6 separate regions of the Homo sapiens genome follow, and regions 2, 3, 4, 5 and 6 are each linked to region 1. The links come from fine-mapping of genetic effects on gene expression. A gene starts in region 1. Each other region holds a variant in brackets. All regions are shown on one strand. Distances are from middle to middle. Region 1 holds the start of SLC67A1 (solute carrier family 67 member 1). Region 2 overlaps SLC67A1 (solute carrier family 67 member 1). Region 3 overlaps KCNQ1 (potassium voltage-gated channel subfamily Q member 1). Region 4 has its middle 3.1 kb from the start of PHLDA2. Region 5 has its middle 3.2 kb from the start of KCNQ1-AS1. Region 6 overlaps CARS1 (cysteinyl-tRNA synthetase 1).

What was found.
Region 2: its variant is fine-mapped to the expression of SLC67A1 in blood mononuclear cells (TOPMed, PIP 0.98).
Region 3: its variant is fine-mapped to the expression of SLC67A1 in memory regulatory T cells (Schmiedel 2018, PIP 0.95).
Region 4: its variant is fine-mapped to the expression of SLC67A1 in lung (GTEx, PIP above 0.99).
Region 5: its variant is fine-mapped to the expression of SLC67A1 in whole blood (INTERVAL, PIP above 0.99).
Region 6: its variant is fine-mapped to the expression of SLC67A1 in whole blood (TOPMed, PIP above 0.99).

What each region holds. Positions count from the first base shown.
Region 1 is chr11:2,899,102-2,904,171 of GRCh38, forward strand. SLC67A1 (solute carrier family 67 member 1) reads left to right here and starts at 3,177. Exons shown (of 11, transcript NM_002555.6): 1 at 3,177-3,263; 2 at 4,113-4,388. The coding sequence starts at 4,245. It overlaps SLC67A1-AS (SLC67A1 antisense RNA), which reads right to left and starts at 4,474. Exons shown (of 3, transcript NR_169305.1): 1 at 4,358-4,474; 2 at 3,483-3,608. RefSeq lists a silencer at 3,309-3,438 and an enhancer at 4,364-4,865.
Region 2 is chr11:2,923,798-2,928,867 of GRCh38, forward strand. It overlaps SLC67A1 (solute carrier family 67 member 1), which reads left to right. Exons shown (of 11, transcript NM_002555.6): 11 at 1,213-1,449. The coding sequence ends at 1,400. PHLDA2 (pleckstrin homology like domain family A member 2) reads right to left here. Exons shown (of 2, transcript NM_003311.4): 2 at 4,476-4,870. Among named protein-coding and RNA genes, the nearest start is that of PHLDA2, 3.1 kb to the right of the region's middle. RefSeq lists an enhancer at 4,900-5,070. The variant C/T (reference allele first, on the strand shown) is at 1,982.
Region 3 is chr11:2,617,086-2,622,155 of GRCh38, forward strand. All of the region lies in intron 10 of KCNQ1 (potassium voltage-gated channel subfamily Q member 1), which reads left to right. KCNQ1OT1 (KCNQ1 opposite strand/antisense transcript 1) reads right to left here. Exons shown (of 1, transcript NR_002728.4): 1 at 1-5,070. Among named protein-coding and RNA genes, the nearest start is that of KCNQ1OT1, 80 kb to the right of the region's middle. RefSeq lists a silencer at 4,117-4,196 and an enhancer at 4,949-5,070. The variant AT/A (reference allele first, on the strand shown) is at 2,627.
Region 4 is chr11:2,929,948-2,935,017 of GRCh38, forward strand. No RefSeq gene overlaps it. Among named protein-coding and RNA genes, the nearest start is that of PHLDA2, 3.1 kb to the left of the region's middle. RefSeq lists enhancers at 1-577, 3,592-4,204. The variant G/A (reference allele first, on the strand shown) is at 2,505.
Region 5 is chr11:2,862,211-2,867,280 of GRCh38, forward strand. No RefSeq gene overlaps it. Among named protein-coding and RNA genes, the nearest start is that of KCNQ1-AS1, 3.2 kb to the left of the region's middle. RefSeq lists an enhancer at 749-1,446 and a cis regulatory region at 4,946-5,070. The variant G/T (reference allele first, on the strand shown) is at 2,366.
Region 6 is chr11:3,005,399-3,010,468 of GRCh38, forward strand. It overlaps CARS1 (cysteinyl-tRNA synthetase 1), which reads right to left. Exons shown (of 23, transcript NM_001014437.3): 19 at 1,481-1,561; 20 at 1-35. Among named protein-coding and RNA genes, the nearest start is that of NAP1L4, 16 kb to the left of the region's middle. The variant C/T (reference allele first, on the strand shown) is at 2,179.

The DNA of each region.
Region 1 (5,070 bases):
AGCTGGCCTCCTCTCATTCGGGAGACCCCTCAGAGGTCCCAGCCTCCAGGATGCAGTGTTCAGAGCAATACTTCTCAGTGCACGTCTGGCTGTGTCCCTGCCCAGCGCTCCCAGGGTCACCCCTCTCTCTAGACTCACTTTCTGCCCCGTCACCCCACTGTACACCCTTGGTCCCAGCCCCTTCCAGTGGCTCAGCTTCCTGAACACTCCAAGCCTGGGCTCACCTCTAAGCCGTTATCTATGCTATTCTCTCAGCCAGGATGCCCTTCCCATACCCAAACAATCCGTGCTCACCTTTAAGACTGGCTGAGGCATCACCTCCTCTGAGAAGCCACCTCTCCCAAACCTGAGCCCAGATGAGCCAAAGCCCTTCCTTCCTCCAGTCAGCCTGGATCCTCTCATCCGGCAGAACTGTCGCCTTGCTTCTCTGAAGCGGTGAATGCCCTGGGGCTGGGGACGCACAGGCTCGCTGGCCCACAACCAAAGCCGCTTCCTCTGGAGGAGGAAGTCCAGGGGTGCCAGGGTTCCACTTGCTTTCTTCTTCACCCAGCCTAAAGGGCAATTTTCCCACATTCCCTCAGAACCAGGAAGTTCCCCCATTCACACTGAGCCTGTTCATGACAAAAAAAAAGGTCTCTCCGATTTCCTCTGCTCAACCAGTTCCCTGGCTACCTGAGGCCCTGCTTCACCTGGAGGAAGACAGTGGTAAGTTTCCAGCATCTCCACCACACCTCAGCGCCAGAGGACCCTCAGCCTCCCTCGCACACCTCTGGGCAGTTTGGTAACTCATCCCATCTCCTCCTGCCGCTTCATCCTCTAAGCCCTCCCCAGGGAACCCAGGAGGCGTCTGGAACCTGTTGGGGACAGTCCCTCACACCTGCCCCATTGAGTAAGGGTTCATGTGGATGCCCATCCTCCCCCAGGAGTCCCAAATCTAAGACACTCTGAGACTCCTGTCACCCACCCCCACCTTACACAGCCGGCCTTTCTGTGCAGTCCTTCCAGGAAACTCTGGCTGGACCTGGGCTCTCGGCTTGACTGCACTCTCCCCAAGTCCCCAGGGCGGCCAGTGGTGACTATTCTTGAAAACGAGCTTGGCAGAGGATCTGGGGACACGCACTCCAGATGCAAACACGTTTGCACTCTTTGGGCTGGAATCCCCTCGAGCGGTACACTGCACCCGTGGGCTTGCTAAGAAACCACCTCACAGAGGGCAGATTGATTGGACAAAAGGCATTTGGTCCCCAAATTGATTGACGTGTGTGAATGGGAGTTTTCAGAACAAAGACCCAAAGATATGGGGGAAACAGGCTGGGCGCGGTGGCTCACGCCTGTAATCCCAGCACTTTGGGAGGCCGAGGGGGGGCGGATCACGAGGTCAGGAGATCGAGACCATCCTGGCTAACACGGTGAAACTCCGTCTCTACTAAAAATACAAAAAAATTAGCGGGGGCTGTGGCGGGCGCCTGTAGTCCCAGCTACTCGGGAGGCTGAGGCAGGAGAATGGCGTGAACCCGGGAGGCGGAGCTTGCAGCGAGCCGAGATCGCGCCACTGCACTTCAGCCTGGGTGACAGAGCAAGACTCCGTCTCAAAAAAAAAAAAAAAAAAAAAAAAAGATATGGGGGAAATTGCCATTTCTGATGCTTAGGCTCAACAAAGTATGGACATCCATGCGGGAACACAGATGAACCAAGGGACCTGCACTAATGCTCCTGGACCGCAAGGGGAAGCGCAGCGAGGGCTGTTGGTCTAGATTTCTTGAACTTTCTGAGCAGCATTCCTTCCTTCTGGGCATGGAGCAGGACCCTCCTGGAATGGGGTCTTATGCCCTACAGTCAAACAAGAGAGGTCAGATAATTTATGGCCAGCTTCTAAACACAAAGGTGGAGGGAAAGTTAGAGCAATATTTTTAGGTTTGATGTCTGGCTGTGTGGAAAGGCGGGGTTCTGATTTCTATGACCTGCCCTGGGGAAAATGGATTCCAGTTTCTAAGGCCAGCTTCGGGGAAAATGGCACTGAGAGACAGGAGAGCAAGAGAAGGTCAGAGAAACACTTTTTCTTCCGAAGCTGCTTCTGAGGCCTTCATTTTGGGGTATTGTTTTCTGATGCCCAACATATCTGAGCTGCTGAACGAAGGGTAGCTGCTGAACCACTCCCACGGTGACTTGGAATGGCTTAGCCAGCCGGCCTTGGGCCACCTGGCTCTGGCCCCCCTGCCCACCAGGACTTTGGCCGGCTCTCGCTCGCCTCTGCGATGTCCGTCCCACCCTGTCTCACCCCTGCAGTTTTCTGCTCTGTGGAGCGATGATTGACACATGGCAGGGGGACACTGGTTTTGACATTTGAGCCTGTGCCCAGCCCTTGCCTGGGGAGGAGGTGGGGCAGGAGTCCTGAATGAGCATCTCCCTACTTAGTGACAGTCAGGGGCACGGAGAATGGTGCCCAGGCCAAGGGCAGGGCTTGGGCCAAGTGTGCGCAGCGTGGGGTGTGTGTGCTCCAGCGGCTCCTGCTGCGGAGGGCGGCATGAGGCTTGTTTACCTGTGTGCTGGCATCTCTGGTGGCCCCTGCAAGGGTGGGGAAGTGGCAGGCAGGGTGAAATGGGGAAAAGTGGGCTCTCAACTGCTCCTAGCAGCCTCCGGGTCTGGGGAGGGAAGTGAGGAGGGGCCCAGAGCTGTCTCCTGGTCACTCTTCTGGGGCTCTGTGCAGACCTTTGGCAGGGCCAGGCTACACCACACCCTCTACAACCTCCCCTGACTTCTTCCCCTAACCCCTCACCACCATTCCTCCGCTTTTCTCTCCCCGCCCCTGCCTCCCCTCCATTCTCTCCTTCCCTCCACCTCCCGGTCCCATCCCCTGCCCACACTGCCCCTCCTCAGGCCCAAAGTGGACACCGGTGCTGCCTGAGGGTCAGAGTGTCCACCTCCAGCAGCCCGGGCACCGGGCAGGATTCAAGCTGGAGGGGGCTGGGGCGGGCGAAGCCGGGCACGGGGCGAGCCCGCTGGTGGGCGGGGCAGGGGCGGGTCCTTCGAGGGGAGGGGCGGGCTCGGCCAGTGAGAGCGCAGAAACCGTGGCACGGGCGCTCCCGGAACTGGCGATTGCAAAGCGCGAGGGCTGGAACTCAGACCCAGAGGGGCGGTCCCTGTTGCAAGTCATCTCCCGAAAGGGCGGGGCCGGGGCTCATCCCGGAAGGACCGGTGTCTAGGTCACCCTGGAGCGCTCACCCCACCGGCACCCGTGCCCAAGCCCGCCCCTGCAAAGGCAGGTACTCGAGCACACTCCGGAGAGGGCGGCCTCTGAGCCCCGAACCCCGAACTCCGGCGCAGCGTCGCACCTCTGCCCAATGAGGTGCCCCTGACGTGCCTGCTGCGGCTGCCCTGCTCCCCCCAGCCTCCCTGCATCCCGGGATGGGGGAGGGCGCCAGGCGCAGCTCCCGGACCCTCAGGGGTCTCCCCGCCCTACCCCACCAGCCTGGGTTCGGTACCTCGGGGCTCAGATGTGCAGTCAGCTGTTAATGTGGCAAAATTTGGGGAAGTCCTCTGCAGCCGCAAAATCCAGTTCCCACCAGTTGGAGGCCGGGCGGGGAAGGGTGGGGACAGACAGCACTCCGCTGTGGGAGGTAAGGCAGAGCTACTGGGGAGCCTGGAAGGCTGAGCTATGTCTCCCCTACGCAAGACCATTCCAGAAGCCCCTTGGAGCTCTGGCTGCTGGCCACAGGGGAAGGTAGACCTTCCCTGAGAGCTGCACTGTGTTGGGGACAGGGCCACTGTGGGCCTACGGAGGGCCTCCAGGCACAGGGACCCACATCAGCCCTCTGGCCACAGAAGGCGCTGATGATTTGAGGTGGACTCAGCCACCACTCCGAGCCTCTGCCTCCCTCTAAAAGTGGGGCATGGCACATTCCTGTGTCAGGCAACCAGGCACTGAGCCTGGCCCACCTGCAGGGGTCGGGGGGAGCAGCTTGTCCCTGTCTCCCCTCCCCGGGAGGCTGTGTGCCTGGAGACCAGAGCTGTCAAAAGTGGAGGAGGGGGACCCCCTGATGTGTCCTCTAAGGTCCAGGTAGCAGGAGAGCTCCACTGGGGAGGGGGTCCTGCAGTGCTGTCCTCTCTTGCAGGCAAGGCCAGGCGGGTGCTGCCTGGGACCCAGTGACTCAGCACCCCTGCCCGGATCAACTGGACTTTTGCCCCCTGCTCCGCCAGCCTCCTGCTTGGATCTCTCCTGGGTCTCCCTGCTGCGCCTGTCCAGGATGCAGGGAGCTCGGGCTCCCAGGGACCAGGGCCGGTCCCCCGGCAGGATGAGCGCTCTAGGCCGGTCCTCGGTCATCTTGCTTACCTACGTGCTGGCCGCCACAGAACTTACCTGCCTCTTCATGCAGTTCTCCATCGTGCCAGTGAGTAACACACCCCAGCCCCTGCAGCCCCAGCCAGGGCTGAACCGCTGTTCCTCCTGCCCTCCATCTGGGCCGTCGCAGAGAGTGGGGGTGGGGGTTTCATGCTGCCAGGGCCCCTCCCAGTTGGGACTCATGCCACGCTTAAGCTGAGTAAGTTAAGGACTCTGCCTCTGGACCCCCGTCAGCACATCCTGTGCTCCAGCTTCAGTGCCAGCCCCGGGAGAAGCCATGGGGAGCCACCCCACTTCCCTCCTGGGGGCAGCACCTCCTCAAACCTTCCTAGCGCTGTTCCTCCTGCCTCTCACCCGGCAGCCTTTGCCCTCTGGAGTCCCTGCCCCAAGGGCTGTTCAATCCGGTGTGGCTCTGGGCGGATCACCCCTCAGAGAGGCTCTCCTTGCACCTGCCCGCAGCTTCTATCTCTCCCCTCCATCTTCTTGGGTCCTTGTTGTCCACTAAATGATCTGTGGCGGCAAATTGATCTCAAGCTTTTTCTTGCAAGAGATAGAATGCTGTCTTATTTTATTATCTCTGTTGCCAAATGCGGAAACATTTCATTGGCAAATTCATGTTAGTTTAGTGTATCATTCAGTAGTCTATACCACAGTGTGTGGCTCTGGAAGCTGTAATAGTAATGATTAAATTATATTCACCAAGTCTGGAGAGGCTTGGGAACAAAGTCTCA
Region 2 (5,070 bases), 25 kb after region 1:
CAGACACCACCCCTGGCCTGGTAGGAGCCAGCATCTGGTTCCCAGCAGCAGCTTGGAAACCCAGCGACAGAAGGGGCAGGAACTGCACCCTGAGTCTGCAGAAGAGGCTGCTCTTAATGGTCCTCCATGCTGGGCCCTGAGCCCAGGTGGGGCCTGGCCAGCTCCTCATCACAGCTGACCAGCCCTGGGAGTTCCAACTCCAGGAGACCTGGGCTCTGAAGTCCCTGGAGCCAGAGACCCTCTGGGCACGGGACCAGAGGCAGTGTCCTCCCACCTGGAGTCCTGGGGGGTCCTCCCGCTTGGCGAGTGCTGCCCCCCTTGTTGCCCGAGTGTTGACAACAGCCACAGATAGTGCCCACGTGCCCGTCCATGCTGCGGGTAGCTGGCCACAGGGGCGTGGAGATGCGGTGTCAGGGACAGAGCAGGCTGCTGCGCAGGTCGGGGCTGTCTGGGGAGCCTCGGAAGCCGCTCGGTCTTGCTCTGGGGACAGGAGGGGCAGGTGGAGGGGCCCTGCATGGGCTTCCAAAGCCCCTCCCAGCCCTGTGAGGGGGAGTTCCATGGAGTAGTAGGAGCTCCGCAGGGTGGGGCGGCTGGAGGAAGGGCTGATGGCCAGGAGGGGCCGTGGGATGGGGGTGTCATGCCCACTCTGAACTCAAGCCCCAACGGTGTCTCACAGGCCAGGCTTAGCCTCCCCACTGCATCACCAGCCCTCGGTGGTGGCAGGCACCCTGGGAAAGAGCCGTGAGAGCCAGCTCCCTGACAGCCTGGGCGGGAGGTTCCGGGCCCCAGGCACAGATGCCATCTCCCTTGGCAGGCCTGGCAGGGCGGGGCCTTCTGCGGTGACCTGTGGTCCCATTCCCAGGCTCCTCCTGTGCTTGGAAACTTTCTGGAGCAGGGAAGAGACTCAGCCCAATGCCCTGGGAAGCACCCTGCATGGCTGAGAGGTCCTCGGGGAACAGACCAGTGGGTAGAGAGAGCTGTGTTTGCTCCAAAGGCTGGGCGGGTGGCAGGGGGTGGGGGACTGGAGGTTAGAAGCTGGCAGGTGGAAAGGATGGGTGTTCAGGGGAGTATTTCACCAGACTATGCAAGGTGCGGACTGCGCCGTGAGGTCAGGGTGGGTCAGGAGAGATGGGAGGCCATGGCTGTGTTCAGGAAGTGGGCAGTTGGCCCAGGGAGCTGCCCAGGGCCTGACTACCCCCATGCACCCCCCAGGGACCATGCTGGGCCTCTGCGCCTCTGTACAACCACTGCTCCGAACTCTGGGACCCACGGTCGGCGGCCTCCTGTACCGCAGCTTTGGCGTCCCCGTCTTCGGCCACGTGCAGGTTGCTATCAATACCCTTGTCCTCCTGGTCCTCTGGAGGAAACCTATGCCCCAGAGGAAGGACAAAGTCCGGTGACCGCTGCCCAGACACAGACTGGCAATAAACTCCTACTAAATCCCTCCGACCTCTTCCGGCCTGGTTTCTGCAGGCTCACGCATGGTCTGCCTGCGTCCTTCAGTGAGGGATGGGGCCTCGGGCTGGAGGGCTTCCTCAAGGAGGGCGCCTACAGCTGGGCAAAGCTCTGGGGAGGACAGAACCACCCAAATTGGTTCACTGTTATTAGTACAGCCCTGAGTCCGCCCATGGAGGAGGTCCCCCTGCTGCCACACAAACAGCTCTTGCTCACATCCCAAGCAATGGCGAGCTCACTGCCCAACTCCCGCCCACAGTGTGCCTGCCCAAGAGCAGAAACAGGTTGCTTTAAAAGATCAGGGAACCTGGCTGGGCGCAGTGGCTCACGCCTGTAATCCCAGTACTTTGGGAGGCCGAGGCGGGAGGATCATGAGGTCAAGAGATCGAGACCATCCTGGCCAACATGGTGAAACCCCGGCTCTTCTAAAAATATTTTTTAAAAAATTAGCTGGGTGAGGTGGTGCACGCCTATAGTCCCAGCTACTCGGGAGGCTGAGGCAGGAGAATCGCTTGAACCCGGGAGG[C/T]GGAGGTTGCAGTGAGCCAAGATCCCATCATTGCATTCCAGCCTGGCAACAGAGCGAGACTCCATCTCAAAAAAAAAAAAAAGATCAGGGAACTGAGGCCTTCCTAGATGGAAGGAAAAATGCCCTCATTCTGCTGAACAGTCCAGCACACAGACCCAAACCCTGGTCGCAGAACTGTACCAAGGAGGCTGCCAGCCACCCGAACCCCAGAACCGCACCAGACACTGCCAGCCACCCGAACCCCAGAACCGCACCAGACACTGCCAGCCACCCGAACCCCAGAACCGCACCAGACACTGCCAGCCACCCGAACCCCAGAACCGCACCAGACAGTGCCAGCCACCCGAACCCCAGAACCGCACCAGACACTGCCAGCCACCCGAACCCCAGAACCGCACCAGACAGTGCCAGCCACCCGAACCCCAGAACCGCACCAGACACTGCCAGCCACCCGAACCCCAGAACCGCACCAGACACTGCCAGCCACCCGAACCCCAGAACCGCACCAGACACTGCCAGCCACCCGAACCCCAGAACCGTACCAGACACTGCCAGCCACCCGAACCCCAGAACCGTACCAGACACTGCCAGCCACCCGAACCCCAGAACCGTACCAGACACTGCCAGCCACCCGAATCCCAGAACTGCACCAGACACTGCCAGCCACCCGAACCCCAGAACCGCACCAGACACTGCCAGCCACATGAACCCCAGAACTCCTCTGGTGTCCCCTTATCTCAGCCTCTTCATCCTACAGCTCAGTGGCCCCCAACATTTTCCGCACCAGGGACCAGTTTTATGGAAGGCAATTTTTCCACGGATGTGGGTGGGCCAGATGAAACTGTTTCACCCCAGATCATCTGGTATTAGATTCTCATGGGGAGTGCTCAACCTTGATCCCTCTTGTGCACAGTTCACAACAAGGTTCTCGTCCCTGTGAGAATCTACTGCTGCCGCTGATCTGGCGAGAGGTGGAATTCAGGCGGTCATGCTTGCCCCGCTGCTCACCTCCTGCTGTGCGGCCCAGCTACTAACAGGCTATGGACCAGTACCCATCCATGGCCTGGGAACTGGGGGTCCCTTCTATAGCTGATTTGCTGGCCAGGCCATGTACCGTTGCCTTCCCAGCCTCCTGACCACAGCACTTCCCGACCCCTCACCCCCACCCCCTGGTCCTGGGCTCTGGGGAGGAGAACTGGGCATGAGGAGGCCAGCCCAGCCGCTGTGACCGATTGACCCATCTGGAGAGGACAGGCTTTCCACAGCCTCAGCGAGGGTCTGCAGCTGCCCCTGAGACCATGAAGGCCGCCCCTCCTCTCCTCGGGCTGCTTTTAAAAGAAGCTGTTGAAACATGGACTCCCCAAACCTTAGAATTCCACTGTCCTCAGAATTTGAGGAATTCCAAAATTCCTCAAACAAGAAGTGGCCTCAGTGAGCCAAGGGCCATCCACCCTCTTCGCCTAAAGCTCAGGCCGGATCATGCCTATGCTTGAAGCACCCAGGGGCAAGGGCTCTCCTCTTGACCTTGGATATCCATCCAGGTGAGGCTCTGGTGGGCCAGCCAGGAGGCCCAGGAGCCCAGCCAGGCAGCGTCCTTGGCTGCTGTTTTCTGCTTTTTGCAGGAGCCCCTCCCCGATCTGCACAGGGGCTTCACAAATTGCGTTCGGGAGAAACTTCCTTGCAGGCAATAGTTTCTTCTGGACCTAGCACCAAGACTCCTGCGGGCCATGCAGCGAAGGGATAGCACCCTCCCCGCCCTGAGCCCAGACCAGCTACCAGGCTTCGTCGGCCTCCTAGCAACAGAGATTAGGGTCCAATTCTGGTACTTCTCTGCCTCCCCTACTGGCATCCCTCCAACCACGAAGGTTCCAGAAATGAAGGCCCCATTGTGGGGTGAGGAGTCATGCCTGTACCCCTTATCACCTCCTCAGCTTGTTCATCACCAGGAGCCCTTCTGGGTGGGGGACACACTTCCTGAACCCTAACTGTCTCAGACCATCCCTGTCTTTCAAAGAGCACAGCCAGACCGGAGGGCAGAAAGCCGTGGTCAGCTATCTCAGAAAGAGGGGCAGGGATTTGCTGCACTCAGGCCTCTCCACCCCAATGTCCTGGGCCAGTACCTGGAGGTGCAGGGACCTCTGCCTCCTGCCCCACCATCGGAGACAGCCCAGAACTCTCTCCTGTTCCCCCAGAAGCAAAGGCGACCCTGCCCGCCCCACACTGCGGGCACTGGCAAGGAGCGGCTGGCGGCGGGCAGCCAGAGGGCTGAGGGATTCCTTCTGGTCTGACTGCGCGGGTGGTTTGTGGGCAGGAAGTGCTGCTGGGGAAGGTTCCCCCACCACAGGCAGCAGCAGCTCGGACCCAGGGCCCTTGTCCTCCCCAGGTTCAATTCCTCAGGACACACCAAGGAGCAGAAGGTAGCCAGGGTCAAGCCCCAGGGCACTTCCTGGCCTCTGGGGAGGCTGCTTGGAAAAGAGGGTGTGGACCAGGCCCAGCAGATGACACGATTCATTTATTCATTCAAAGCCGGTTCCCAGCGCCTTTCACACCAGCCCCGCAGGACTGGATGAGGGTGTCCTGCCCGCCCATTCCTGGGCCTCCACCCTCCCAGCAGGAGTCTCACTGAGCCACAGCCGGATGGTAGAAAAGCAAACTGGCCAAGTGATTTATTTGCAATGGGCACAGTGATGCAAAAACAAGATATTAAGACTATAAAATATGTGACTACAAAGAACCAGCGAAATAAATACATAGATATTAGATAGTCCAATAACTTAAGGCGCCCGTGCAACGGAGCGAGGATCCGCGCGCACGGGAAGTTCTTCTGCTGCAGGGCTGGAGAGCGCCGGCCACGTCCTAGCCTCGGTCCGACTCGTCCAGCGTATGGCCCTGTGGGGAAAGGACTGGGTCAGAGAGCTGTGCCAGGGCCGGTCCGGGTCCAGCCTGAGGGGCCCCGAGACCCTGACGCGAGGGGGCCAGCGCGATTGCGGGGCGCCGGGTCCCCCAAGGAGGTGCAGCGCCCCCGCCCCGCCGTCTGGGGTTGAAGTGGTTTTTCCCAAAGGCCCCGGTCCCGGCTGTTAGGGCGCAGG
Region 3 (5,070 bases), 280 kb before region 1:
TGAGAAAAGCTATGATCTACTCAATTGGCAAAAATTCCAAATGCAATATACTAACTATTCTCATGTTCTACATGAGATCTCTAGACTTGTTCATCCTATATATCTGCTACTTGGTATCCTTTGACCTACATCTTTCCATTTTCTTCCCCCACACCTTGCCCATGGTAACCACTAGTTTATTCTATCTCTGTATATTTGACTTTTTTCTTTTTAAGATTCTACATATAGGTGAGATTATTTAAAACTTTTCATTTGTATATGGCTTATTTAACTTAGCACAATGTCTTCCAGTTTCATCCATGTGGCAAGTGGCAGGATCTCCTTTTTTAATGCGGAATAATATTCCATTGTAGACATACACACCACAGTTTAGTCATCCATCAATGGACACGTAAGTTTTCATATCGTGACTCATGCATATAATGCCACAATGAATATAGGAGCGCAGATATCTTTATGAGGTGGAGATTTCATTTTCTTTGGGAATATACCTAGAAGAGGGATTAGTGGGTCAGATGATAGTATATTTTCAATTTCTTTAGGAGCCACCATTCTGTTTTTCATTATGACTGCACCAATCTACAGTCCCACCAACACTGTACAAGAGTTCCCTAACCCTAGCCAACACTTAATAGCTATTCTCATGAGTGTGAGGTGATATCGCATAGTAATTTTGATTTGCATTTCCCTGACGATTAGTGATGTTAAATGTCTTTTCATATATGTGTTTGCCATTTTTATAACTTCTTTGCAAAAATGTCTACTCAGTTCCACTGCCCATTTTTTAATTGGGTTATCTATTTTCTTGTTATTGAGTTGTATGCATTCCTTATAAATTTTGGATATTATCCTCTTATAAGATATATGGTTGGCAAATATTTTCTTCTAGTCCATAGGTTGCCTTTTCCTTTTGTTGACTGTTTCCGTTCCTGTGCAGAAGTTTTTTAGTTTGATGGTATACCAATTATTTGTTTTTGTAGCCTGAGCTTTTGGTGTGATCTCCAAAAAATCACTGCCAGAGCCATGTCGAGCTTTTCCCCTATGTTTTCTTCTGGTTGTGGGTTTTGGTCTTATGTTTAGGTCTTTTATCCATTTTGAGTTTATTTCTATGTATGGTGTAAGGCAGCGATATCAAATCTTTTGGCTTCCCGGGGCCACACTGTAAGAACAATTGTCTTAGGCCACACATAAAATACACTAACAATAACAACAGCTGATGGGCTAAAAAAATGCAAAAAAATTCAATGTTTTAACAAAGTTTACAAATTTGTGTTGGGCCTCATTAAAGCCATCCTGGGCTTACATGTGGTCTGTGGGCCATGGGTTGGACAAGCCACAGAACTGGGTTTCCTAACGTCATTTATGAGAGAGACTATCTTTCTGCATTGTTTTCTTCGTGTTCTTGTGGAAAATTGGTTGATCATATATCTTTGAATTTCTTTCTGGGCTCTCTATTCTGTTCCACTGGTCTACATGTTTGTTTTTTATGCCAGGACCATACTGTTTGATCAATAGTTTTGTAAAATAAACCAGAAAGTATGAAGTCTCCCTTTGTTTTTCAGAACAGAATTTTCAGAATTTCGTTGGCTACTTAAGGTTCTTGCTATTCCAAATGAACTTTAGAATTTAAAAAAATTTTCCATGGGATTTTGATAGGGATTTTATTCAATCTGTATATTGATTTGGATATTATTGACATTTTAACAATATTATTCAGATTCATGAGCATGGGATATCTTTCCATTTATTTGTATCTTGTTTAATTTCTTTCATCAATGATTCATAGTTTTCAGTGTACAGGTCTTTCATCTTTTTGGCTAAATTTATTCCTAAGCAATTTTTTTGATGCTATCATAAATGGGATTGTTTTCTTGATTTCTTTTTTGGCCAGGTCATTATTTGTGTATAGAAATGCAACTACTGTTTTATATTGATTTTATATCCTACAACTTTACTGAACTCATTTATTAGTTCTAACAGGTTGCTTTGTCAGAGTCTTCGGGGTTTTCTATATGTAGGATCATGTCATCTTCATATAAAGATAATATTACTTCTTACTTCCTGATTTGAATGTCTTTCATTTCTTTTTCTTGTCTGTTTGGTTGTACTAGTACTTCCAGTACTATGTTGAGTAGTAGTAGCTAGAGTGGGCATCCTTGCCTTGTACTGGTTCATAGTAGAAGGGCTTCTGTTTTCCCTCATTGATTATAACGTTAGCTGTGGGCTTTTCATAAATGGCATTCGTTATATTGAGGAGTGTTCCTTCTATACCTGAACTGTTAGAATTTATCAACAAAGGATGTTCAACTTCATCAAATACTTTTTGTGTGTCAATTGAGATGATCATGTGGTTTTCATCTTTCAGTCTGTTAGTATCACATTGATTGCTACATGTATATTAAATAAGATTTGCATGCCAGAAATTAATTCCACATAGACATGATATATAATCTTTTTGATGTATTGTTAAATTTAGTCTGCCAATATTTTATTAAGGATTTTTGCATCGGTATTCTTGGGTTATGTTGGCCTGTAGTTTCCTTTTCTTGTGATGCCTTTGGCTCACCTGGGTATCAAGGTGATGCTGGCCTCATAAAATGTGTTAGGAAGTATTCCCTTTAGCTGC[AT/A]TTTTTTTTTTTTGGAAGTATTCCCTATAGCTGCATTTTTTTGGAAGAGTTTAAGAAGTATTGGTATTCTTTGAATATTGGGTAGTATTCAGTCATGAAGCTATCTGGTCCTGGGCTTTTCTTTGTTTGAGGTTTTGGGGTTTTTTTAACTTTTATTTTTGATTTAGAGGGTATATGTACAGGTCTATATGTTGCATGGTATATGGAGTATACTGCATGATGATGAGGTTTGGAGTGTGGATAAGCCTATCACCCAGGTAGTGAGCATAGTACCCAATAGGTAGGTTTTCAGCCCACCTCTCCATTCCTCCCCCAAGTAGTCCCCAGTGTCTACTGATCATCTTTATGTCCATGTTTACTCAGTGTTTAGGTCCCACTTGCAAGTGGTAACATGCAGTATTTGGTTTTCTGTTCCTGCATTAATTTGCTTAAGATAGTGGCCTCTAGCTGCATCCATGTTGCTGCAAAGGACGTAAGTTCATTCATGTATATATATATATTTTTTTTTTTTATTTTTTTTTTAGACGGAGTTTCGCTCTTGTTGCCCAGGCTGGAGGGCAATGGCATGATCTCGGCTCACTGCAGCCTCCGCCTACCGGGTTCAAGTGATTCTCCTGCCTCAGCCTCCTGAGTAGCTGGGATTAGAGGCATGCGCCACCACGTCCAGCTAATTTTGTAGTTTTAGTAGAGACAGGGTTTTTCCATGTTGGTCAGGCTGGTCTCGAACTCCTGACCTCAGGTGATCCACCCGCCTTGGCCTCCCAAAGTGCTGGGATTACAGGTGAGAGCTACCGCACCTGGCCGAATTCATTCATTTTTATGGCTGCATAGTATTCCATGGTGTACATGTACCACATTTTCTTTATCCAATCCACCACTGATGGGCATCTAAGTGGATTCCATGTCTTTGCTGTTGTGAATAGTGCTGTGATGAACATACAAATGCATGTGTCTTTTTGATAGAACAATTTATTTTCCTTTGAATATATATCCAGTAATGGGATTGCTGGGTCAGATGGTAGTTCTGTTTTCAGTTATTTGAGAAAACTCCAAACTGCTTAGCACAGTGGCTGAACTAATTTGTATTCCTGCCAACAGTGTATAAGCGTTCCCTTTTCTCTGCAGCCTTCCCAGCAACTTTTATTTTTTTGACTTTTTAATAATTGCCATTCTGACTGGTGTGAGATGGCATCCCATTATGGTTTGGTGTTTTTTTGTTGTTGTTGTTTTGTTTTGTTTTTTTTTGTCTGTTTTTTGCTTTTTTGTTTGTTTGTTTGTTTTTTGAGAAAGAGTCTTGCTCTGTCTCCCAGGCTGGAGTGCAGTGGCGCAATCTCGGCTCACTGCAACCTCCACCTCCTGGGTTCAAGCAATTCTCCTGTCTCAGACTCCTGAGTAGCTGGGATTACAGGTGACCGCCACCATACCTGGCTAATTTTTGTGTTTTTAGTAGAGACGGGGTTTCACCATGTTGGCCAGGATGGTCTCGAATACCTGACCCCAGATGATCCACGCACCTCAGCCTCCCAAAGTGCTAGGACTACAGGCATGAGCCACCGTGCCTGGCCTCATTATTTGCATTTCTGATTATTAGTGATCATGAGAATGTTTTTTTGTTTGGCTACTTCTGTATTTTCTTTTAAGAAATGTATGTTCCTGTCCTTTGCCAATTCAATTGGATTATTCGTTTTTTGCTTGTTGATTGGTTTAAGTTCCTTATGGATTCTGGACATAGGACCTTTGCCAGATGAATAGTTTGCAAATATTTTTTCTCCCATTCTATATGTTGTCTGTTTACTCTGTTGATAATTTCTTTTGCTATGCAGAAGCTCTTTAGTTTACCACTGTGATCTCTTTGCTATTGGTCTGTTCAGGCTTTCTATTCCTGATTTAATCTTAGCAGGTTGGTTTTTTTCTAGGAATTTGTCCATTTCCTCTAGGTTATCCAATTTGTTGGGATATAATTGTTCATAAAAGTCCCTTATGATCCTTTTTATTTCTGAAGTACCTGTTGTAATATATTCTCCATTTTCATTTCTGATTTTGTCCTCTTTCTTAGTCCAAGAGTTTGTTGATTTTATTTTTCAAAAATCAATTCTTTGTTTCAAAAATTGAAGTCTTAGTTTTACTGACTTTTTTCCCCTATGGTTTTTCTTTCTAACTTGTCTCTGTTCTGATCTTTATTATTTCCTTCTGTTAACTTTGGCTTTAGTTTGTTCTTCTTTTTCTAATTCCTTGAGGTACAATTTTGGGCTATTTGAAATATCTCTTCTTTTTTAATGTAGGCAAGGCATTTATTGCTGTAAACTTCCCTCTTAGAACTGCTTTTGCTGCATGTTTTGCTTTTGGTATGTTGTGTTCCCACTGTCATTTGTCTGAAGATATTTTTAAGTTTCTGTTTTCATTTCTTCTTTGACTCTACCCATTACTGAAAGTACGTTATTGA
Region 4 (5,070 bases), 31 kb after region 1:
TGTTCGGGGGCCTTTCCCAGGGCCGCCCAGAGACCCTCTCCGAAAGTGGCCCTGCCCTAGCGGACCGAGCTCCTATCTTGCCACCCACGGGCTGCGCCAAGAACGACCACCTCTCTTAGCCTCGGTTTTCGCTTCTGTGAAATGGGAACAGTAACCTTTGCTGGATTAGGGAACACGTGGAAAGGGCTAGACCAGCAACCCATAGAGCTCAGAAAATGGAAGGGGAAGAGGAAGCCCGTTCTCCTCCCTGCGCCCTCGTAGTGTCCCGAACTGGGGTACGGACTGCTCCGACCGCGCCCCCACGACCCGGACCGGAGAGAGGTCCCAGGAGCTGAGGGGTTCGGGCTGGGCCGCGACGCCCGCTCTCTGGGATCAGCCTGGGGGCGAGGGTCGGCGGGGGCGGCTGAGTCATCGCTTTCCAGCTGGGCAGACGGGCGGTTTTATTTACCCTCTTCCTTTAAAGGGTTTAATAGACAGGAAGCGAAAGCCGGCTCTTCCCGGGTTCCCAGGGGTGGGGGTGGAGCCGGCCGAGAGGACCCCAGAGACCCCGGCTACTACTCCACGTCTCCCACCTTCCCGCACCCCTGCCCCCTAGCTGCGCCCTGGGGTGGTTACAGCAGGAAGTCCCAACTCTGGGGTCAGAATTGGCCTCAATGACGGGGCTCACGCAAAATGAAAACGAGAGTCCCCTGATTCAAAATGTATTTAAAATGTCAAGACAGTGGCAGCAGAGCGTAAAACCCAGACCTGGGACCAGCCCTACCTCCACCTGCCCTTCAGGGTCACTGTAAAGGATAAAGAGACGTCCGGCTCAGAGGAGCGCCCCAGACCCGGTTCTGTGAATGGCATGCAGGTAGCAGCTGCCCGGTGGTCCCACCGGTGTGGCCAGAGGACCTGGCAGTGGGCAGGGATGTGGTGTGGAGGGGCAGTGCCGGCAGAGGGCAGGGTTGGGCTGTGCCAGGGTTCTGGCCTGGGAGTGAGACACCTGCCTGGGGCCGGCGGGTCAACACTGCCCCCTACCTGACACCTGTCCTTGCAGCAGGGCTGGGATCCTGTGGTGAGGGAGCAGCAGGTAGGGTGGGTGGGTGAGGGGAGGTCAGCCTTTGGCGGGGAGAGGGGATTCGAGCATTGTTCCGGAGAGGCTGCAGGAAGGATTCGGACTCTGGTGTCCCTTCTTTTGCTTCCAGAGGGCCCTGGGCTGCCGGACAGTGGGACCTGGGCAAGAGGCACCTCTGGGCAGTGGGAGACCAGGAGAAGCGGCCGGGGGCAGAGCGCTCTGTCACTGCGCCAGCCCACAGGTGCCTGGAACACCTCCAGGCCCACCAGCCTGCCTACCCCATTGAGGGGCCAGCCAGTGGAACTTCGGCTCCAGGCAAATCCCCCGACACTCGTGGTTGCTTAAGCACCTACTGTGTGCCTGCAGGCCTGGCTGGTGCTGGGACCCCAGAGGAGGGGAGAGGAATCCCTCTAAACCCCAGGGGCACAGCAGGTACATGAGGATGGGGATAGGGGTCGGGGGTACTGGAGGCCAGGAGGACAGCTTGGAGGACTCTGTGGGGAGGGCGTGCCCTCGAAGATTCCAAGGAGACCTTGAAGGGCCAGTGGTGCCCGTATGCCACCACTGTGCCCAGCCTCCACCTAACCCAGAGAACTCCCCAAAGTGGGCACTCCAGCCCCTGTTCCACAGAAGAGGAAACTGGTTCAGGATGGAGAGGGCCTTGGGGAAGGGACAGAGAACAGGCAGGAGCAGATAAGGGGCTGAGAGAAATGAGGGGGAGGAAGAGGGTTTGGAAACCAGGTGAGGCCAGGTGAGGTGTGCTCCCCCAGCCCCGCCCAGCTCCTCTCTTTGCCTGTACCCCAGTGGCCCTCTCAAGGGAGGCTGGGAAACTCACTCCCCTGGGGGCAGGACTTACAACCCAGGGGTGATGCTCTGACAGGTGGGGCAGGAGCTGGGAGGCCAGGGGGCAGGGTGTGCAGCCGAGATTCAGAGGCCCTGCCCTCCCTAGGGGATTTCCTGCCCACTCAGCCCCTCTCTGCTATTCCCCTCATGGACACTGTGAAGACCTGGGGGGTATGGGGGTGGATGGCCCTTTAGGGGCTGCTGGAAATCAGGTCTGAGCCCTGGAGGCCAGGCCTCCCCAGGCAGCTTCTCTGCCCACAGTCCCTGCCCCAGGGGCTCAGTTGTAGTGGCCCTGGCCTCCCCAGCAGCTGCTAGACACCCTGGGCCCCTGCTCGGCCAAACCAGCCTGAACCTGGTTGCCAATGTGGGGGCTGGAGGGAGCCGACTCCCAAGCCTTACCAGCCCTGGACCAGCAGGTGACTTCAGGAGCCCCCAGGGTGTCTTTATGGACATGGGCAAAAATAAACCACGGCCTTAGGAGGTGAGAGGGGCTTGGAGGACACCATGCCAACTTGGCAGGTACTTGCACACAGGGGCTGCCCCATCCTCTCTGCGTCCACCATCCACCCGAGGGGCTTTACCACCACCACTAACTCACACTGCC[G/A]TCTGCCCCTCTGAGCCACCCGCCCTCTGCCAGCCCCCGCTCGGCCTCCCTTGCCTGAGGCCTGAGCCTCACCGCCTCACCTGGTCCCACCTGGGGCTGAGCGGTGCCCCCAGGAGAAGCACTGGCCCCAAGCTGCAGATGCAGAAAGGGTGGCTCAGAGAGGTGCAGTGACTTGTCAAGGTCACCTTTCCAAGGAGGGACCCTATCTCTATCCCCCAGAGCAGGCCTGCCTGAGGGTCCCCTCTGGAGGATGAGGGCTGTGACACTCACTTCCTGGGATGTGGGGGAGGGATGTTGAGGCAGAAGAGTGCTGACACAGGGACCCCACATGAGGGTCTTTTGAGGAATGCCCCTCCTAGAGCCATTTGATAGCCAAGAGCCTGGGAGCTTCTCCAGCACAGCACAGAGATTGGAACCCGGCGTGGATTCGGCCACACCCCATGGGACCTGCTTCTACGAGGGTTCTGGACCACTCACGTGCTGGAGGCGGAGGAACCACCTGCCGGAGAGATGCCAGGGCCAGGCACCGGCAGGAGAGTCCGTGTGGCCCTGCCCCGTGCTAGTTCTGTGCGGTCATTTCTCCCTGTTGAGACTGCTTTCTTGGGTTTGCAGGGAACACTGGGTGGGGGTTTCAGAGAGGTGGTGACTCACCCAGGTTACACAGTGGCCAGTGCGGCCACATCCACAGCTTCCCCGATTCTGTGGCACCCTGTGGCTCGGGGCAGGAAACAGCCCTGATGTTCTGTGACTGCTTCTCAGGATGGGGAGGGGGCTCTGCCTCGAGTTGGTGGTGTCAGGCAGCATCAGTCCAAACCGGGTTTACTGATATTTATCTGAGGGGCCACATCCAGGATTCATGCAGAGCCTGAGCCAAGGGCCCCCACCCCTGGGCAGGCATTGTACAGTCTGGGTGCCCAAACATCTGGCCTGGGACACTGGCTGCCCTGTCCAGCTGCCTGGACCCTTGGCACCGGAGCCCAGCTGTGTGAGGCTGTCAGCAGCTGGAGTAGGATGCGGGCACCTCTCCGAAACTCCCTGAGTGAGGTCACTTCCTTACGGTGACGAGGCCGGGCCCTCCAGGCACTTGCCCAACGAGCCTGGCCATCCTGCCAGCCTGTGAGGAAGCTGCGTGTCACAGGGCCCGGCCCAGTGCCTGGGGCTTGACACCACCCTCTTGTGGGAGGGGTTGCTCAGAGAGAGCCCTGCAGAAAGGCCCACTGCTCCTCAGTCAGGAAGGCCCACCCCTAGCTCCTCTCACCCCCTCCAGGAAGCCCTCTCAGATTGCCAGGGCGCACTCTAAGGCCTGCCTCCTGCCAACCACATACTGCTAGGCCATGGGTCTCCAAGCCTCCGCCCACCTGAGCCTGGGGAGGCTGGGGGAAGACCTAAGCTGCCTGGAGCTGCAGCACCTGAGCAGTGCACTGGTGCCACCTCACCTGAGCCCAACATGGCCCATGTGCCAGGGCCTGTGACTCAGGCTTGCCCTCTATCTGTCTCCTCCCAGCTGCAGCCTGAGGAAAGTGAGAGGCCCCGTGGCATGACCCACCTGGTTTTCAGACACTTGCTGTCAGCCTGATCTTGGCCTTGGAGGGCTGTGTTCTCTGTTGCTGTGTCTCTTCCTGAGCTCTTCCACTGGAGCCTGACAGGCAGGTCCTACCTCACAAGATGTTGGGGATTGATTGAGAAACCAGGAACACCCTTCTCCTTGGCCCCTGATGAGCTCCTGTTTATCCCTCAGTACCCTGCTCAGAAGCTATTATCAGCTCCTTAAATGCAGTGATAATGTTTTATTCTTTGGGAGCCCCAGGGATCAGCCCAGGCACTCAGGAAATGGCTAAAAAAGCATCCTGAGGCCGGGCTCGGTGGCTGACGCCTATGATCCCAGCAAGTTGGGAGGCCGAGGTGAGCAGATTGCTTGAGCCCAGAAGTTTGAGACCAGCCTGGACAACACAGCAAGACCCCCCCATCTCTACAAAAAAAAAAATAAAAATTAGCCAGGCATGGTGGCATGTGCACTATAGTCCCAACTACTTGGGAGGCTGAGTTGGGAGGATCACTTCAGCCCAGGCGGTCGAGGCTGCAGTGAGCCGTGATTACTCCACTGCACTGCAGCCTGGGTGACAGAGCAAGACCCTGTCTCAAAAAATAAAGGCATCCACGTCATTGTCCAAAAGACCCCCTCTGCACTGACTACTGAACGTGCAGACTGTTGGCGTGTGTATGAGACCAGACAGCCCCTTGCTGCCTCGGGTGAGACTGGCAGTCAGGCGTGCCAAGATGAGGGGGCCCCGTGGGGCAGAGTGGGGCCTCCGTCGGGCTCCATCAGGCTGGTGTCACCTCCACAGGGCTGCTTGTGGGTGGTTATGGAGCCTCCAGAGGTTGGGAGATGGGGCCAGGACACAGGGAGCTCAGGAAAGGGCCCTCCCAGCAGTCACTCGCAGATGGAAAACAAGAGCAGCCAACATGACCGCCCTGCACCTGGCTTGTGGGGATGTCTCCAGAAGCTTGAAGGAGTGAACCAATGAACAAAGGAACAAACAAAATACAGGAAGGGAGAGAGGGAGGA
Region 5 (5,070 bases), 37 kb before region 1:
GGATGGGGGCAGGGGTAGGGTTCAAGGGGCCAGGGTCCCAGGGGCTCTCCTGGAGGCTGCAGAGGAACCCAGCCTGGGTGGGGGGCTCCGACGCTCCACAGCCTGTCCTGGCCCGGCCAGGCCCGGCCCGGCCCGGCCCCCTGCCCAGTCGCGGCACTGCCCGGCCCGACCCCCAGACCTTCGGGGTGCCCAGTCCGAGCCTGGGCCGCTAGGGGCCGCGGGCCTGGCGGGCGGGGCGGGGGCCGGGGTCGGGGGTCCGGCGAGCTTTAATGCGCGCACAAAGCCTCATTTGCAGGTCAATGCCGCGGCACACTCGCCTCTCCCCTCGCCCGGCGCCCTTTGTCCGGCCGCGCCCGCTCCTCGCGCCAGATGGCCGCGGAAATGCTAATTTCGGGCGCCCCTGCCCCCCCACCCCCGCGTTTAATTGCGCCTTTGCAGATGGGCCGCGAGTGTGCGCTTCATGCAGATGAGCGCGGCCTCGCCGCCTTCCTCGGACCTCCGGGAGCCGCGGCCGGGCGTGCTGGGGCCGAGGGCAGGGAGGGGGCCGCTGTCCCTCCACTCGACGCGCCGCCGGGCACGGGCGGGCACCCAGCGGCCCGGGCCCGGGAAGCGCGCTTCTCTCTTTTCATTTCTCCAAAATGGGATCTTAAGTGATTCTGAATGAAAACAAATTGGCCCGCTTTCTTCTCCAAACAGACGCGCGGCGCGGTGGGGGCGGCGGGCGCGGGCCCGGGGCGGCCCGGGCGGTGGGGTTGGCTCCGGGACCCCCTGCCCGGCCCGGCCCTCGCGCCTTCTCCCCGCGGCCCGCCTTCCTCAGCCCTGGGCCGGCGGCACTTGGAGGCGGCCGGGCAAGACGGCAGACGTGGGGGCCCCTTTAACCGGAGCCAAGGATCCCCGGACTTTCTGACCAACCAGGAGCAGAAGCCCGCCAGGTCACCCTCGCCTTTCATGACAGAAACAGATTCCCAGGCTGGTCGGAGCGCAGAAATGAGGCAGGCCAGGGCCGGCCTCCGCCACCCCGCCCATCTCCAGCCCCAGCAGGAGCCTGGCCCAGGCCTCTGGCCCCACAGCGCCAGGGAGCATCCTCCGGGAGCCCAGGCCTGCCTCGAAGCCTAGGGCTGGGGCAGGCTGGGCAGAGTGAGGGAGGGAGGCAGTTTCTTTGTGATGTGTCCACTTTACTAGCAAAATTTCAACCACAAACTTAGAAAACCTATACATTGGTGGGTGATTCACTTGCTCCACCACCAGCGATGAAACAGAGACAGAGCCACGTTCTGGGTAAGTAAGAATACTCCCAATACAAAACTCAGCCACAGACCTTTAAAAAGAAAAGGGTGCCGGGCGCGGTGGCTCACGCCCGTAATCCCAACACTCTGGGAGGCCGAGGCGGGAGGACTGCTTGAGCGCAGGAGTTCCAGTCCAGCCTGCACAACCTGGCGAGGTCGCATCTCTACAAAAAATCTTCTGATTTTTTTAGCCAGGCGTAGCGGCGCGCCTGTAGTCCCAGGAAGGATCACTTGAGCCTGGGAGGTGGAGGCTACATAGAGCCATGACTGTGCCACTATACTCCAGCCCAGGTGACAGAGTAAGACCCTATCTCAAAAAAGAAAGAAAAAAAAGAGAAAGAGAAAGAAAGAGAGAAGAAGGAGGAGGAGGAGGAGGAGGAGGGAGGAGGGAGGAAGAAAGGAAAGAAAGAAGAAAAAGAAAGGAAGAGAAAGAAAGAAAAAGAAGAGATAAAGAAAGAAAAAAGAAAGAGAAAGAAAGAAAGAAAGAAAGAAAGAAAGAAAGAAAGAAAGAAAGAAAGAGAAAGAAAATCATCTGTTCCTGAAACATTCTGTGATACTTTCGTAATTTGCTCAGCCAGAGGACTGAAAGTGCAGGCGGATCCCTCAGCCTTGGGCTCAGCTGGGACTGAAGTCAGCTGACAGAGTGAATCTGGCCCAACTGCCACCAGTCTGACTCTGGCACCCTGGCCCTGGCGTGACCTTCACAGCCGCACCCCCCACCCCCCACCTCCGCCTCAATGCCCACCCTCCAGCTCCACATCACTGAGCCTGCCCTGCTGCGCCCTTGCACGGGCACCCTGGCTGCCAGCTCTCCTCCACCCATTCCTCCTCTGAGTGTCCTCAGGCCCCTCAGGGGCTGCTCTTCCCTGGACACCCAGGAGCCTCAACCTTTGCCCTGTGCCACACCTCCCTCACCTGGCTCTTGAAAGGAGTCCCATCCACCTTCCCCTCAGGGTGAAGCTCAGGGCCTGGCCCACACCCCTGCTGGTACTCAAGGCCCACCTGGGGGACCTAATGGGGGGTTCCAGTAGACACCGAGGCCGAGGCCGGAGGGCTCAGCCACCCTTGTCACCCATCCT[G/T]CAGGGCACTGTCTCATGGGTGCCAGCACAGTGACATGCCGTGGGCTGGGGGAAGCTGGCTCATAGAATATGCACGGCCAGGACGCACCGTGGAAATTTCCATGGTCACGGGATGGAAACCATTTCCTATCAATAAAATAACAGGTGCCCCGTCAGAATCCCCCTTTCATTTCTTTCCAGGAAACAGTTCAAATGGGATGGTTACACCCATTTGAGACAAACATCTCTTGGTCCTAACCCCTTGTGGTTGCTTCATTAACCAGAGGCCTCCATCTTCCTCTGGGGAAGACAGTGCAGCCCAGCTGCCCTCCGCCTCCAAACCCTCCCTGGGCCCTGAGGTGCCGTGTGGACCCACTGCTGCAATCGCCATGTTCACCCCACACTCGAGGGTAGACCCAGAGCATTTGAACTGTCCTCGTACTCCCTCGGCCACTTCTCAACAACAGCGCATTCCCAATCCTGTAACCTGGGGCCTTTCCCTAACACATTTAAAAGACGCCAGCCGCCTTCTCCCGCCCTAGCACTGTCACCAGCTGCTTGTACTCAACTCTCTGCCAAACTGTTACTTTGTTTATCACACTCAGATTACGGGTCTCTTGAACAGTTTGTTATGGTTAAATACTTTCAATTAAAACAGTATATGTTTGTGTGTGTGTATACAAATAGATAGACATTCTAATACTTTAAAATAGGTACTTTGAGCTGGGCACAATGGTGCACACCTGTAGTCCCAGCTACTCCAGAGGCAGAGGTGAGAGAATCTCTTGAGCCCAGGAGTTCCAGTCCAGATTGGACAACATAGCAAGACCCTGTCTCTATTAAAAATATACCTTTATGCCAGATGCCTATAATCCCAGCACTTTGAGAGGCCGAGGCAGGAGGATCACTTGAGCCCAAGAATTGGAGACCAGCCTGGACAACATAGGGAGACCCTGTCTCTACAAAAAAAAAAAAAAATTAAAGATTAGCTGGGCATGGTGGCACACACCTATGGTCTCAGCCACTCGGGAGGCTGAGGTGGGTGGAGGGCTTGAGCCCAGGCGTTGGAAGCTGCAGTGAGCCATGATCGTGCCACTGCACTCCAACCTGGGTGACAGAATAAGATCCTATCTCAAAAAATATTTTTTAATTAAAATAAAATATGTGCTTTGGACTTAAAAAGTAAATGTGAGTCCCATAGATGTAAAATGATATAGAGCCCCAAAGTGCCATCTGCGCTTATCTCAGGATAGCAGCATCTATCTGGGGGAATTTTTACTGTCTTTTTTATACATTCCCATATTGTTTGCATTTTTTTTTTTTACAATGAGCATATGCTGCTATTTCTACAACCAAGGGAAATATATGGCTATTTTCAATTTGGAAATCAAAAGAAATAAAAAGCCCCACTGGCTTGCCAGCCCTGTGACCTGGGTGCTGTAGCAATAATGCCTGGAACTGGCCCCAGCCGATGAGGGACCCCAGCCACAGCCCATGCCAGAGTCCACTGTCAGGACCATCTTACGAGAGGGGCTGCCTCAGAATGGAGTCCTGGGGGCACCTCAGTAACTAAACCCCCTTGGATGGAAGCCAGGCCAGACCCACTCAGTGCCAAATTCCACTCGGGCCTGCTCTCAGTTCCAGCAAAATTCCAAAGTATATTGTTGTTATCGTTATTATTTTGCAATTACGTGACATTTTTTAAATGCCTAGACTGTTTTCTCAGCCATTTTCATTAGCTCCTTCTCACTCTGCCCAAGAGACACTTCAGCATTGTGTCTGCCACTGGGCAGGCTGGCCAAGGCTCAGAGAGGTCAACTAACCTGCCTAGGTTGCACAGCAACAGAGCAGCGGGTGCGAGAGCAGACGTCAGGGCTGGGCCCAGGTCATCCTGCAGAGCTGGGGGGTGGGTCTCGCTGTTGGGCCCTGTTGGGCTTTTATTCAGATTTAGGAATTTCTTGGGGGGCGGGGGCAGGGGCAGATTTGGGAAAGAGAAGAAAAAGTAGGAACGAGAGAAGAGAGAAGAAAAGGCAAGGAAAGCCCAAGGCCGAAGCAAGAGAGCAAAATAAGCAGAAGACACCACGGGTGTGGGGCTGGCAGCACCGCACTGAGAGCCCCTGGCAGGGAACCAGCCCCTGGAGGTGCCCCTGCCTTCTCCCCACAGCCTGGCATGGTGCCGGCTTCCAGAGGAGCCTCGTTTCTCAGTGAGGGGGGCGGGAGGGGGTGAGACAGCATCCGTGTCTAGACGCTTATCCTTTGAGGAGAATACCAGGGTCCCCAAATGCCACTTGAGATCTCTCTGAAATGCAGGAGGCCCTGGAGCCTGCATTTGTCATCAGCCTCAGTCACCACACCTACCCCCAGCTCAGGAGCAGGTGCCACAGCTCAACCTGGCTCTCATGCTGAACCAGGTCCCCAGAGGTCTGGACATTGCCACTCACCAGCAGGCATCCCGGGCCACAGGGCAGGACGCCCAATCTGGAAGCCCAGTGTTATGGGAGGAATCGTATCCCCCAAAAATCATATGTCGAAGCCCTCACCCCCAGCACCTCAGCACATGACTGTATGTGGATACAGGGTTTTACAGAAAACAGTTAAAATGAGGCCATTGGTGTGGGCCTAATCCAACAGGACTGGGGTCTTTATAAGGAGAGGAGGACACAGGCACACTCAGAGGCATGACCCTCCCAGGACACAGGGAGAAGGTGACGTCTGCAAGCCAAGGA
Region 6 (5,070 bases), 110 kb after region 1:
GTTTCTGTCTACCAGTTTCACCACTGTGGGCAGTCCTGCAAAATAAACTGCGTGTGAGAAGAGTCTGGGCTCTGTGGGCCGTCCCCACTGCGGGGCCAGCCCTGCCCTGCCCTGCCCTGCCCAGACCATGCGGTGCTGCCCAGTCAGAGCGAGGGCCCACAGGAGAAAAACAAACAAAAACCTCCATAGCAGCAGTGAAGCACAGGAGAACATTTTGGTTTGTGTGTGTGTGATTTTTTTTTTTTTTTTTTTGAGACAGAGTCTTGCTCTGTCATCCAGGCTGGAGTGCAGTGGCACGATCTCAGTTCACTGCAACCTTTGCCTATCGGGTTCAAGCAATTCTCGTGTCTCAGCTGCCCAAGGAGCCCACACCCAGCTAATGTTTTGTATTTTAGTGGAGACGGGGTTTCACCATGTTGCCTAGGCTGGTCTCGAACTCCTGAGCTCAGGTAATCCACCCACCTCAGCCTCCCAAAGTGCTAGGATACAGGTATGAGCCACCACACCTGGCGAGAACATTTTGTAACGAGAAGGTAGGAAGGTCTTGCCAGCCAGGAGTAGGAAAATAGGACATGACATCTGAGATTTAAAATTACCAGGGGCAGAGTGGAAGAGTGGAATTGGAGGGTTCGTAACACAAAGAAATGATAAATGCTTGAGGTGATGGACATCTCAGTTACCTAGATTTGATCATAGTACCTCATACGCATGTATCCAAATATCACACATAGCCCATAAATATGTACAACTATTATGTATCCATAAAAACTGAAACTAAGGCTGGGCATGTGGCTCATGCCACTTTAGGAGGCCGAGGTGGGCAGATTACTTGAGGTCAGGAGTTCGACACTAGCCTGGTCAACACAGTGAAACCCCGTCTCTACTAAAGATACAAAAATTAGCCGAGCGTGGTGATGGGCGTCTGTAATCCCAGCTACTCGGGAGGCTGAGGCAGGAGAATCGCTTGAACCCGGGAGGCAGAGGTTGCAATGAGCCGAGATCGCGCCACTGTACTCCGGCCTGGGCGACAGAGCGAAACTCTGTCTCAATAAACAAATAAATAAAAATTGAAAATAAAAAACAAAAAAATTAACTTTCTGTGGAACAAAAAGACCTCCACGAAGTGGGAGAACAAGCATGCAATCTGTTGACAGTGTACAGGATACAGGCTGGTTCCTCAGCTGAGAGCTTCAAAGGCGGTAGCAACAGGGGCAGCGGGCAGCCAGGCCCCTAGGGGAGATGATGCGCAGGGGAGGTGACACCACCACACGCAGCAGTGGGAAGGAGCTACGGGGTGCTCCCCTGCCCCTGCCAGGCTGGCCAGCGTGGGAATGGCGCCGGGGGACCCATGGGGCTGCCACTTTGGGATTCTGCATCAGCAATCATGAAGCATGAGCCTCAGCCCAGCCCCGGGAGCTCTCCTTGTGACACCTCTCCAAGCTCCTGGTAACTTTGTAGCAAACAGCAAGGGCTCACCCACCTTCGTGGTCTTCAAACCGCACCCCAAGCTCGGGCAGGATGTTGTCCCGCAGGGCATCGCTGAGCTGCAGAATCTCAGGGACTGTAGGAGAAGCAGAGCAGTTCCCTCAGACATGGAGGAGCCAGGGCCCACACAACCAGTGCCTCCTCCAGTGCTGGGGAAGGAGGGGCCGTGGCCCACAGAACAAGTGCCTCCTCCAGTGCTCAGGAGGGAGGGGCCCCGGCCCACAGAACGAGTACCTCCTCCAGTGCTTGGGAGGGAGGGCCCAGCAGCTTGATTGGCTGCAGAAGCCCAGAGACTAGTGTCTCCCGTAAGCCCAGGGGCTGTTCTGGGGGTGCAGGGCAGAGCCAGGAGGAAGCATAGCACACTGGCCGCCGGAAGCAGTTCTTCCAGGAAAGGGACACAAGTTGGGCCGACAGCAGGGGTGGGAGGGTCAGGACAGGCCTGGGGGTCCCTTCGGGTGCTAACACTCTTCATCTGAGGCAGCCTCTCTGTTGGTGCCAGAATCAGCTTTCTTACAGAAGGACCATTTACACTCAAGCCCCAAGGACTTGGTTCCCAAATGCACACGGGACTGCGATGGGGGTCCTGACCGGCACCCAGGAGAGCTGAGTCCCAGGACCACCAAGGAGCTCGAGCTCTGTGAGAATCAGCCCTCCCAGGGCTGAAGCGCACGCAGCTGTAAAGGCGGGGCTGAG[C/T]GGTGGGGGTGGACCGCAGGTTGCTTCCCAAGACTGTGCTCACCTCTGCCTCTGACTGGGGACCTGACCCAGCTGGGAGGGTGAAAGGAGGCATGACAGGGAGGGCGACTGTGACCTCCATCACATGGGGAGGGAGCTTCGCTTGGAAACCCATGTGTCTGTGGCTGACTTCAGAGCGCAGCAGTGCAGACTTGCCCGGCATCCCACGGTTCTCCTAGTGGGCTCCTCACGCAGTCTCTAGCAGGCGCCCCCTCTGTGTCTCTGCTCTGCCCGAGTTTTCCCGTTCCCAGCCCACGCACAACGCCCAGGTAGAGAACAGGACATAAGAAGTTTTGGGTGTTACAGGGTAAATGGGATGCCAACCTATCTCAGAAAGACTCCAGAGTATCAGGTGATGTGACAGCATCTCCTAGACTACATCAACAGGACAGATGCTTGCTGCTCTCCAAGTGACAACTTTCTGCTCTGAAATCTGACCTTGGGTTTGCTGGAATCACCACACCCTTTAGTTTTCTTCTGGCCCCTCAGCTTGCTGCGCCCAACTGTGCTAGGCGGGCAGGTGCCCTGCCCCCCAGCCTGCTGGGACCCCCACCATCCCACCCCATCCTCCTGCCTGCCCTGCCTTTGGGCAGCACTGACCATGCACATGCTGCCATTCTCGTCTGTCCTTTTCCTGCTGTGTCCTCATAACTGAGACCCCTAGAGCTCCTTGCTGGGCACCCCACACCTTCATTCACTGCTAGATAAAATATTCACATATCCGGGCAGGCACGGTGGCTCATGACTGTAATCCCAGCACTTTTGGAGGCTGAGGCGGGTGGATCACAAGGTCAGGAGATCGAGACCATCCTGGCCAACATGGTGAAACCCCATCTCTACTAAAAATACAAAAACTATCTGGGTGTGGTGGCATGTGCCTGTAATCCCAGCTACTTGGGACGCTGAGGCAGAAGAATCGCTTGAACCAGGGAGTCGGAGGTTGCAGTGGGCCAAGATGACACCACTGCACTCCAGCCTAGCGACAGGGCAAGACTCCATCTCAAAAAAAAAAAAAAAAAATTGCATATCCTTGGGCTTCAAGGCCGCGCTCATAAGCACAGCCACTTTGGGCAGCTTCCGGAGTTTCAACCTCCCCAGGCAGAGACCTAGGGGAACAATGGCCTTTATATTTGTCTGCAGTATCATTCCTGGGAACAGGCCCTCCTCAGCCACCTGAGGAGCAGCTGACTGGGGCATGAGCTGAGGTAGGTGCCTGCCCTTCACTCTTTGAAAGCCACCCCTGGATAGCACCCTCATTAGAAGGAAGGCAAGCCAGCACCTGTGGTCACTGTCACGGGTGTCATGGGAGGCCACAAGGCCAGCACCCCAGCCCACCCGCCATGGGTGATCATCAGAGCAGGCACCAAGAAAGCCTCCCGGGCCACACTCCCTGGGGGAAAGGGACACACGCCGTACCCCTCAGGCCCACACCGACCTCTGGGTCTGGATTCTGAGGAGCTGAGGAAGAAGCCTCTGTGGCTTCTGTTAGCAGAGCTGGGGCAGAGGAGCAGACAATGACATCATCATCAGGGATTTACTGAAGAGAAATGTGGGCTACAAAGATAACGCAAAGGTGATGAGAATTCTTCCATGGAAGAATAGACAGATCAGGGCCCATCCATCCATGGAATATGATTTGGCCATTAAAAAGGCAGGAGGTCCTGACACAGGCTGCAACATGGATAGACCTGAGGACACCGTGATCAGCGAAATAAGCCAGACACAGGACAAACACTGTGTGACTCCACTCATGTAGGGTCCCTGGAGTAGTAAAATCCAAAGAGACAGAAGTAGAGGGTGAGCACCAGGGGCTGAGGGAGGGGATGTGGAGTTGCTGTTCCATGGGGACAGAGTTCCAGTTTGGGAAAAGGGAAGAGTTCTGGAGATGGACGGTGGCGGCTGCACAACACTGTAAATGTCCCTAATGGCACTGAGCTGTGTATTTTAACATAATGAAAACAAAACCGTGGCGATGGGGAAATGGCATCATCTCCCCAGTGCAGAGGGCCCTGGCCCAGCCCCTGGCTTTCTCACTTCAGTGCCTCTCTCCTGGTCAAACCCTGAACCCATTGCCCTCCTTGCCAGGCCTGTGCTCTCTAGCTGACTGGACCATGGGGGTATTTCCAGGGGAAACAGTTTCTTTTTCGTCTGTCTGTGGAGCATCTGGCCTGGGCCAAGCAGATCCCAGCTGATCTGAGGGCCACCCCTGAGCTTGTTATACACTCACTTTCTCTTTGGCCAGCCATGAGATGTTAACAGTGAATAACAAAACAGTCACTATTTGCTGCTGCTGGGGAGACAGGGTGATTGCACCAGAGCCACCTCTAACACGCTGCCCCGTCGGAAGGTCTGAGGCCCCTGGATCCCCAGGGTCTCTGGCTCACAAGGCACATATGGGATGATGTACAGGGTAGGGATCACCACCATCTTAACCTGGGGCCACATCACCCATCTACCTGCTCCAAGCCACAAAACAAAAGTGAAAAGCAAACAGAAAGCAAAACCGAACTACTTCCAATGCTGGCTGGCTGGTGCCACTCTCCAGGCCTGAGCAAGTCCTGTCCTGGTCAGTGCCACCGAGCGGGAGCTTGTGCCTGGCCAGTCCCCCTTTAGCGCCCTCCCGGGGCTGTGGCATGCCAGGGAAGCCAAGGCCACGTGCACAGTCTTGTATGACCCCAGGGAGCTGGGGCCCGGGCTCGGCCTTCGATGTCCCCCAGAAGGCAGGTGGAAATGCCCAGGCGACCTCCAGGAATGGTCTTCCCAAGCCCACGACCCCAGCGATGCCGCTAAGTTAGTGCTGCCAAGATTGCTGGAGAGCCCTGCGCTGGTCCTGAATAGGCTGGTCCAGGCTTG